2 separate regions of the Homo sapiens genome follow, and region 1 is linked to region 2. The links come from fine-mapping of genetic effects on gene expression. A gene starts in region 2. The other region holds a variant in brackets. All regions are shown on one strand. Distances are from middle to middle. Region 1 has its middle 13 kb from the start of LINC02683. Region 2 holds the start of SPON1 (spondin 1).

Region 1 (4,378 bases), 25 kb after region 2:
CCCATGGGAGAGATACCAGATTGACAGGTAGTTGGGAGAATAGTAAATAGTACCATGTGACCCCTTCTTAAATGGAATTCCCATGAGAAGAAGGTAATTTCCATCATGGCGTTATGAAAAATTCTCAAGCAGCTCTATGGCTGTGTGTTAAATGAATTAAATGACTGTTAAATGGAATTGCCTTTTGCAGCTGTTATTACACAGTGCAAGTTCCCTGCCAAAAGGGCTGCACCAACTTACCTTGTCACAGGAAAAAGAACCCCCTTCCCTGTGGACTCGGGTTTGCTCATGTAAAAATTGTTGCCTAAATTAATACCATTTCGATTTTAATTTGCATTTAATTGCTCATTAGTGAAGTTAAATGCTAGTTTTCCAGATTTGTGTTCCCCTTTCCTTTTGCATTCCCTTTCAGGTGAATCTATAACCTTATTATGAAAATGAGAGGGGGCGGTTCCAAGATGGCCGAATAGGAACAGCTCCAGTCTACAGCTCCCAGCATGAGTGATGCAGAAGACAGGTGATTTCTGCATTTCCAACTGAGGTACTGGGTTCATCTCACAGGGCCTTGTCAGACAGTGGGTGCAGGACAGTGGGTGCAGCTCACCGAGTGTGAGCTGAAGCAGGGCGAGACATCACCTCACCCGGGAAGCACAAGGGGTCAGGGAATTCCCTTTCCTAGCCAAGGGAAACTGTGACAGACAGCACCTGGAAAATCAGGTCACTCCCACCCTAATACCACTTTTCCAATGGTCTTAGCAAATGGAACACCAGGAGATTATATTCCGTGCCTGGCATGGAGGGTCCCATGCCCACGGAGCCTTGCTCATTGCTAGAACAGCAGTCTGAAATCCAACTGCAAGGCGGTAGCAAGGCTGGGGGAGGGGCGCCCACGATTGCTGAGGCTTGAGTAGGTAAACAAAGCGGCAGGGAAGCTCGAACTGGGTGGAGCCCACCGCAGCTCAAGGAGGCCTGCCTGCCTCTGTAGACTCCACCTCTGGGGGCAGGGCATAGCTGAAAAAAAGGCAGCAGAAACCTCTGCAGACATAAATGTCCCTGTCTGCCAGCTTTGAAGAGACTAGTGGTTCTCCCAGCACGGAGTTTGAGATCTGACAACGGACAGACTGCCTTCTCAAGTGGGTCCCTGACCCCCGAGTAGCCTAACTGGAAGGCATGCCCCAGTAGGGGCAGACTGACACCTCACATGGCTCGGCACCCCTCTGAGATGAAGATTCCAGAGGAAGGATCAGACAGCAACATTTGCTGTTCAGCAATATTCGGTGTTCTGCAGCCTCTGCTGCTGATACCCAGGCAAACAGGGTCTGGAGTGGACCTCCAGCAAACTCCAACAGACCTGCAGCTGAGGGTCCTAACAGTTAGGAAAACTAACAAAACAGAAAGGACATCCACACCAAAACCCCGTCTGTACGTCACCATCATCAAAGACCAAAGATAGATAAAACCACAAAGATGGGAAAAAACAGACCAGAAAATCTGAAAATTATAAAAATCAGAGTGCCTCTCCCCCTCCAAAGAAACACAGCTCCTCACCAGCAACAGAACAAAGCTGGATGGAGAATGACTTTGACGAGTTGAGAGAAGAAGGCTTCAGATGATCAAACTTCTCCAAGCTGAAGGAGGAAGTTAGAACCCAACGCAAAGAAGCCAAAAACCTTGAAAAAAGATTAGACAAATGGCTAACTAGAATAACCAGTGTAGAGAAGTCCTTAAATGACCTGATAGAGCTGAAAATCATGGCATGAGAACTACGTGACGAATGCACAAGCTTCAGTAGCCGATTCAATCAACTGGAAGAAAGGGTATCAATGATGGAAGATCAAATGAATGAAATGAAGCAAGAAGAGAAGTTTAGAGAAAAAAGAGTAAAAAGAAATGAACAAAGCCTCCAAGAAATATGGGACTATGTGAAAAGACCAAATCTACGTCTGATTGGTGTACCTGAAAGTGACGGGGAGAATGGAACCAAGTTGGAAAACACTCTGCAGGATATTATCCAGGAGAACTTCCCCAATCTAGCAAGGCAGGCCAACATTCACATTCAGGAAATACAGAGAACGCCACAAAGATACTCCTCGAGAAGAGCAACTCCAAGACACGTAATTGTCAGATTCACCAAAGATGAAATGAAGGAAAAAATGTTAAGGGCAACCAGAGAGAAAGGTCGGGTTACCCACAAAGGGAAGCCCATCAGACTAACAGCAGATCTCTCAGCAGAAACTCTACAAGCCAGAAGAGAGTGGGGGCCAATATTCAAAATTCTTAAAGAAAATAATTTTCAACCCAGAATTTCCTATCTGGCCAAACTAAGCTTCATAAGTGAAGGAGAAATAAAATCCTTTACAGACAAGCAAAT[G/C]CTGAGAGATTTTGTCACCACCAGGCCTGCCATAAAAGAGCTCCTGAAGGAAGCACTAAACAAGGAAAGGAACAACCCGTACCAGCCACTGCAAAAACATGCCAAATTGTAAAGACCATTGAGGCTAGGAAGAAACCGCATCAACTAACGAGGAAAATAACCAGCCAACATCATAATGACAGGATCAAATTCATATATAACAATATTAACATTAAATGTAAATGGGCTAAATGCTCCAATTAAAAGACACAGACAGGCAAATTGGATAAAGAGTCAAGACCCATCAGTGTGCTGTATTCAGGAGACCCGTCTCACATGCAGAGACACACATAGGCTCAAAATAAAGGGATGGAGGAAGATCTACCAAGCAAATGGAAAACAAAAAAAGGCAGGGGTTGCAACCCTAGTCTCTGATAAAACAGACTTTAAACCAACAAAGATCAAAAGAGACAAAGAAGGCCATTACATAATGGTAAAGGGATCAATTCAACCAGAAGAGCTAACTATCCTAAAGATATATGCACCCAATACAGGAGGACCCAGATTCATAAAGCAAGTCCTTAGAGACCCACAAAGAGACTTAGACTCCCACACAATAATAATGGGAGACTTTAACAGCCCACTGTCAACATTAGACAGATCAACGAGACAGAAAGTTAACAAGGATATCCAGGAATTGAACTCAGCTCTGCACTAAGCGGACCTAATAGACATCTACAGAACTCTCCACCCCAAATCAACAGAATATACATTCTTCTCAGCACCACATTGCACTTGTTTCAAAATTGACCATAGTTGGAAGTAAAGCACTCCTCAGCAAATGTAGAAGAATAGAAATTATAACAAACTGTCTCTCAGACCATAGTGCAATCAAACTAGAACTCAGGATTAAGAAACTCACTCAAAACCACTCAACTACATGGAAACTGAACAACCTGCTCCTGAATGACTACTGGGTACCTAACAAAATGAAGGCAGAAATAAAGGTGTTCTTTGAAACTAATGAGAACTGCTGGGCGTGGTGGCTCATGCCTGTAATCCCAGTACTTTGGGAGGCCAAGGTGGGTGGATCACGAGGTCAGAAGATCGAGACCATCCTGGCTAACACGGTGAAACCCTATCTCTACTAAAAATACAAAAAATGAGCCGGGCGTGATGGCGGGCGCCTATAGTCCCAGCTACTCGGGAGGCTGAGGCAGGAGAATGGCGGGAACCCGGGAGGCGGAGCTTGCAGTGAGCCGAGATGGCGCCACTGCACTCCATCCTGGGCAACAGAGCAAGACTTTGCCTCAGAAAAAAAAAAAAAAAAAAAAAAAAAACAAAGAAACTAATGAGAACAAATATACAACATACCAGAATCTCTGGGACAAATTCAAAGCAGTGTGTAGAGGGAAATTTATAGCACTAAATGCCCACAAGAGAAAGCAGGAAAGATCTAAAATTGACACCCTAACATCACAATTAAAAGAACTAGAGAAGTAAGAGCAAACACATTCAAAAGCTAGCAGAAGGCAAGAAATAACAAAGATCAGAGCAGAACTGAAGGAGACAGAGACACAAAAAACCCTTCAAAAAACCAATGAATCCAGGAGCTGGTTTTTTGAAAAGATCAACAAAATTGATAGACTGCTAGCAAGACTAATAAAGAAGAAAAGAGAGAAGAATCAAATAGATGCAATAAAAAATGATAAAGGGGATATCACCACCAATCCCACAGAAATACAAACTGCCATCAGAGAATAATATAAACACCTCTATGCAAATAAACTAGAAAATCTAGAAGAAATGGATAAATTCCTGGACACATACACCCTCCCAAGACTAAACCAGAAGGAAGTTGAATCCCTGAATAGACCAATAACAGGATCTGAAATTGAGGCAATAATTAATAGTCTACCAACCAAAAAAAGTCCAGGACCAGAGGGATTCACAGCCAAATTCCACCAGACATACAAGGAGGAGCTGGTACCATTCCTTCTGAAACTATTCCAATCAACAGAAAAAGAG
Region 2 (4,378 bases):
TAGGCAAGGCTCCTGATATGAAAAAATACCTCATTCATTCATTCAATTAATTCATGAGGACCCAAATAACCACTGGTAGATGAATGGGACTGGAGGAGAGCTGAGGAAACCTGCTTTCAAACGCACAACACTCTTCAAAAACAAAAATCTGATCAAGAACCTACCTCCATTAGTAAACCAATAAAGGCCTCACATTCAACTGTTAGGCTTATTAGGAATCTCTTTTAGCTCAGGCACACTCACCTTTGTAAACTCATTTACTCCCTACCACCAAGAGAGGGTGGATAAACAGCTTTTTTTTTTTTCCAGCTAGGAAATAGGTGCAGAGAAATTAAATGACTTGCACAAGGTCACACAGCGAGTAAACCCAAGTCTGTTGGACTCCAGAGCCACTTCTTTCTCTGCTACGTGGAGCGGGGACAGTTTCCCCTGTGAACTCAGGTCCTCAGTTTTGGGGAGGGCCGAATAGGCCACTGAAGTCATACCCGCTTCCCTGCGGTCCACAGGGAGGATCGGCCGCCTCCCGGCTGCACCGAGTGGCAGTCGCCGCCCGTCGGCGCGGCTCGCTCTAGCCGCGGTGCCAAGCCGCGCGCTCCCTCCCGGGCTGGGCGGGGTGTTCTCCGCCCAGAATCTTTCTTCGTGGAGTACCCAGGATCCCGCGGAGCTGCGCGCCGGGGTCAGACTGTTCCTCGCAAAGTGCTCAGCACGCCAAGGTGCCAAGGGCACCAAGGAGCCGGCTTTGGGTAGCTCCGGGTGGAGAAAGTCGGGGACACAAACCCGGGAAAGGGGGAAAAGCGCTCCAAGAAGGGTGGCCCCTGGCTTTGGTCTCCGGCGTGACCCTGGCGCCCGCTGACGCTGCCCCAGACTTTCTCCTGTGTTGCTCCCACCGCTTCCGTCCAAGGCTCTCTGGGGAACTGGGAAGGCGAGGAGGAAAGTACAGCAGCTGGGAGCCCATTTGCCCCACCAGGTGCCCCAGTGACCCGCTCATCCCTGCTTAGCACCAGAGCTGACTTATGAAGGGGCGAGGGTGAGAGGACACGCTCCCTGGCGGGAGCTAAGGTGAGGCCAGACAGGCTCGCTTCCCTTCCTGGTTACCTGTCCCCCACCCGGAGAGCGGCTGCTGCTGCACGGGGAAACGATGTCTGGGGAGATGACCCTGCTGAGGAGCGAGGTGGCGGGCGTGGGGACAGAGTCAGGCGTCTTCAGATCGGTGCTGGTCGAACTGCCTGTCCCGCCTAGGAGGCTCTCACCTGCTTGGACACCTCCTCCCTGAGCTCCCGAAACCCCACTCTCAGCCGAGCGGCGTAGGCGCGACATCCCTGGGACGTGGAGACTCCGAGCTGCCGGAGCCAAGGTTCCCCGGCCTCCAGGGAGCAGGCCTCGGGCATCGGGGCTTCTCTTTCCATCTTCATCCAATTCCCCTTGCAGCTCGGAGCTTACCCCAAGCTCTTTGAGGACCCTGTCCCCACTGGGAACCTGTTCTGGAAACCCAAGATACTCTATCTCGTCTGGGACCACGAGAGAATAATTTGGGGTTCTTTCCAAGGACCCTTTCGAGGAGCTTTAGGCTGTCCCTGCCCCTCCTTCCCGCACCCCGGGACCGGTTAGGGAGAAGCCAAAGTCCCTTCTCCTGAAGGGACCTATCCAGGGAAGCCGGAGTGGCTGTCCCGCCCAGGGCCAGTCTTTGAGAATCGGGTACCCTCTCCTTCAGGGACTGAGCGGGGAAAGCTGGAGTGGCTGCCTTGCCCGGGACCCGACCAAGAGAAGCCTGGGTCCCCTCCAGACCGATTTGGAGAAAGGCAGTTTTACTTCCCTCCTGCAGACGGCCGGGGGAGAAGCGAGCCTCCCTTGCAGTCAGGCCGGCGTGACGTGTGGCTCAGTTACATCCTCCGCCTGGGAACCGCGCGTCGGAAACGCGGGGTGCCTCTCCTGGCTGCGGCCCCCGCGACGGCCCGGGACGCTGGATTATGATCCGCGCCGAGCTCGCGACTGCAAGGGCCGAGGGCAGCCAGGACAGAAGGGCCCTTGCCGGGCTGCACCCGCGCCACGCGCCCGGAGACCGCGCGCCCTCCTCCGGCACCGCGAGGTCGGCGCCCTCCGGGGACCGGGTCCCGCTCTCCTAATGCCACGCCGGGCGGCCACTTACCGCGGTAGCTGGTTCCCGGCTTGTAGAAGTCGGGGTCGCCCTCCACGCGGAGGCTGAACTCGGTGTAGCCCTCGCGCCGCGTGCCCTGGGCGCGCAGGATACGGCTGCAGTAGCCCTCTGACTTGGGCACTTTGTCCAGGGTCTCGTCGGAGAAGGCCAGCGCCGCGGCCAGGGGCAGCGCCAGGGCCAGCAGTGCCGGAGTCCGGCTCAGCTTCAGGGGCGCCGGGGACAGCCTCATCTTCGCGGCCCCCAACTTTGTGCCGCGGCCGCAGGCCTTCGCCACGCGACTCCTGCCCGAAGTGGTCCCGACGAAGGCGCGACCTGGCGGAGGCGCGGCGGAGAGAGGGAGCTCGGAGCTGGCGTCCGCGACTCGGAGACCGTGCCCGCCTCGGCTTGGCGGCCGCGGAGCTGCGCTGAGCTGAGCTGAGCTGAGCCAAGCGAACGAGAGCAGCGCGAGGAGGGGAGGGCCGCGGCGAAGGAGCGGGAGGAGGGAGGGCTGATTTTGCCCAGATCCCCCAGCGCAGCGCTGTTTTGTTTCCTCCGAACTGGCGATTAGCGGCGCGGCCGTGTTTATTTTGCGACGTTGGATTCCCAGGGTCTGACGAAGAAACCGTGGCATACCGGACCCTGTGGGCTCTGTCCCATCGCCTAGGAGGCTGCTGCTCCAACCCCCAGCTACACTCCGGACCCTCTGGAGGACGGCGCTCAGAGGAGGGAAAGCCTGAGAAATAACTTTTGTTGCACACCTGCTCTGTGCCTAGCAATATGCTTGGCGGCTTACTTACTGTATCGACTCGCCTTCATGTTCCCTACTCCCAATAAAGATTACATTACTTTCGCTCACTTTATAGATGAGCAAACTGTGACTTGCGACCAGTTACAGCAGGGTTAGATGCGGCGACTCCGGGCCCATTGCTCTTCCCAAGGCCATAGTGGAACATGTCAGACTGGAGGCTGAGAAAGGAGAAACGACTTAGCTACAGCGCTTAGGGCCCACGATACTTTTGGAGATCTATGAAAATGTTTTCTGTAAAAATCAGAAGAAAAAATTTATGTCAAACAAAATGTTTTACTATATAATGTTAATATATTTGTATTTATACCTCCACAGTCATAAAATATGCTTGACTTGGAGGAAAGAGCCAGCAAAGGCAAAAGTGCCTAAGGCTCAGGAAGGTCCTCCTACAGCCCAGGAAAGGAGTTTCCAAAGATTCAATGAAGAGCCTGTGTTTTCTTGGCTTACATTTTAGTTCAGATTCTCACTCCCCAGGGACAGATGTTCAGAGAGGTGCTGAGCCTGAGGGCCTGAAGGGAAAAGACCTGGGGCAAGAATCTCTCCCAGTGTCTCTCTGGGAAGAGACCCGAATCAAACCTCAGTCCTGCCACTCACCCATTGTGAAGCTTGGGCTAGTTATCGCACTCTCCAAGCTTGTTTCCTGCTCTGGAGAACAAGGAAGTGGGGGTGGGTGCCAGTACATCCTTCTTAGAGGTAGTGGGGTGATATGCTAGAAGTAAATGATATGACCCATATAAAACACTCTAGTTGGTCTCTAGTGGCGCCTGCTCCCTCACCCGCTTGGGGATACCATAAGCCCCCTGCCTCTCAGTGCACACAAACATCCCTCCCCAGGTGCCCTCAGAAGCTTTGGTTTCCTCGTCTTCTCTTTGCCCAGGGCCTTCGACACACCTCAAGTGCCTACAATTAGCAAGCAATCTCCTTTGCTTTCCAGGTCAGGGTTTTCTCTTTCATAATGCTACAAACAGGCCCAGGGCGCTAGGTGCATGGGAGATCTCCATTCCTCCCTGCCTGCCCACTTACTCCTTAGTGCTTGTGCTGGAATTCCCACTGCCACTATTAACTGGACGCCTTCTCTCAGAGGTCACCTGAAAGTAACCCCTTGCTGAAGCCAATTATGCTCTTCTCTCATCCCTAGCCCTTCTTGACCCTAGCAGCACCTGATCCAGCTGATCGGCCCTCCTTTTTGAGGTGAGGCTCAGATCCATGTCTGAGTGCTGAGGGAATTGTCTGCATCTTCACTCGACTGGCTCAGAGCTCATGCTGCACTCCAAGTTGCACGGTCCCATTCATCCAGCAAACTTTCATTAAGTGTAGATTTGGAGCTAGACTCTGTGCTGACCGGTAGGTAGAAGACGGAACAAAAATTCATCCATCCATCCATCCATGCATCCTTCTATCCATCCATTCATTCATGACAAAGACCCTCCACGTGC

The links. PIP is the estimated chance that this variant, and not a neighbour inherited with it, causes the effect.
Region 1: its variant is fine-mapped to the expression of SPON1 in whole blood (TOPMed, PIP above 0.99). The same link has a PIP of 0.9 or more in blood mononuclear cells.

Annotation. Positions count from the first base shown.
Region 1 is chr11:13,935,577-13,939,954 of GRCh38, reverse strand. No RefSeq gene overlaps it. Among named protein-coding and RNA genes, the nearest start is that of LINC02683, 13 kb to the right of the region's middle. RefSeq lists an enhancer at 866-1,367. The variant G/C (reference allele first, on the strand shown) is at 2,372.
Region 2 is chr11:13,960,911-13,965,288 of GRCh38, reverse strand. SPON1 (spondin 1) reads right to left here and starts at 2,566. Exons shown (of 16, transcript NM_006108.4): 1 at 2,147-2,566. The coding sequence starts at 2,384. LOC124902637 (a long non-coding RNA gene) reads right to left here and starts at 2,132. Exons shown (of 2, transcript XR_007062602.1): 1 at 244-2,132.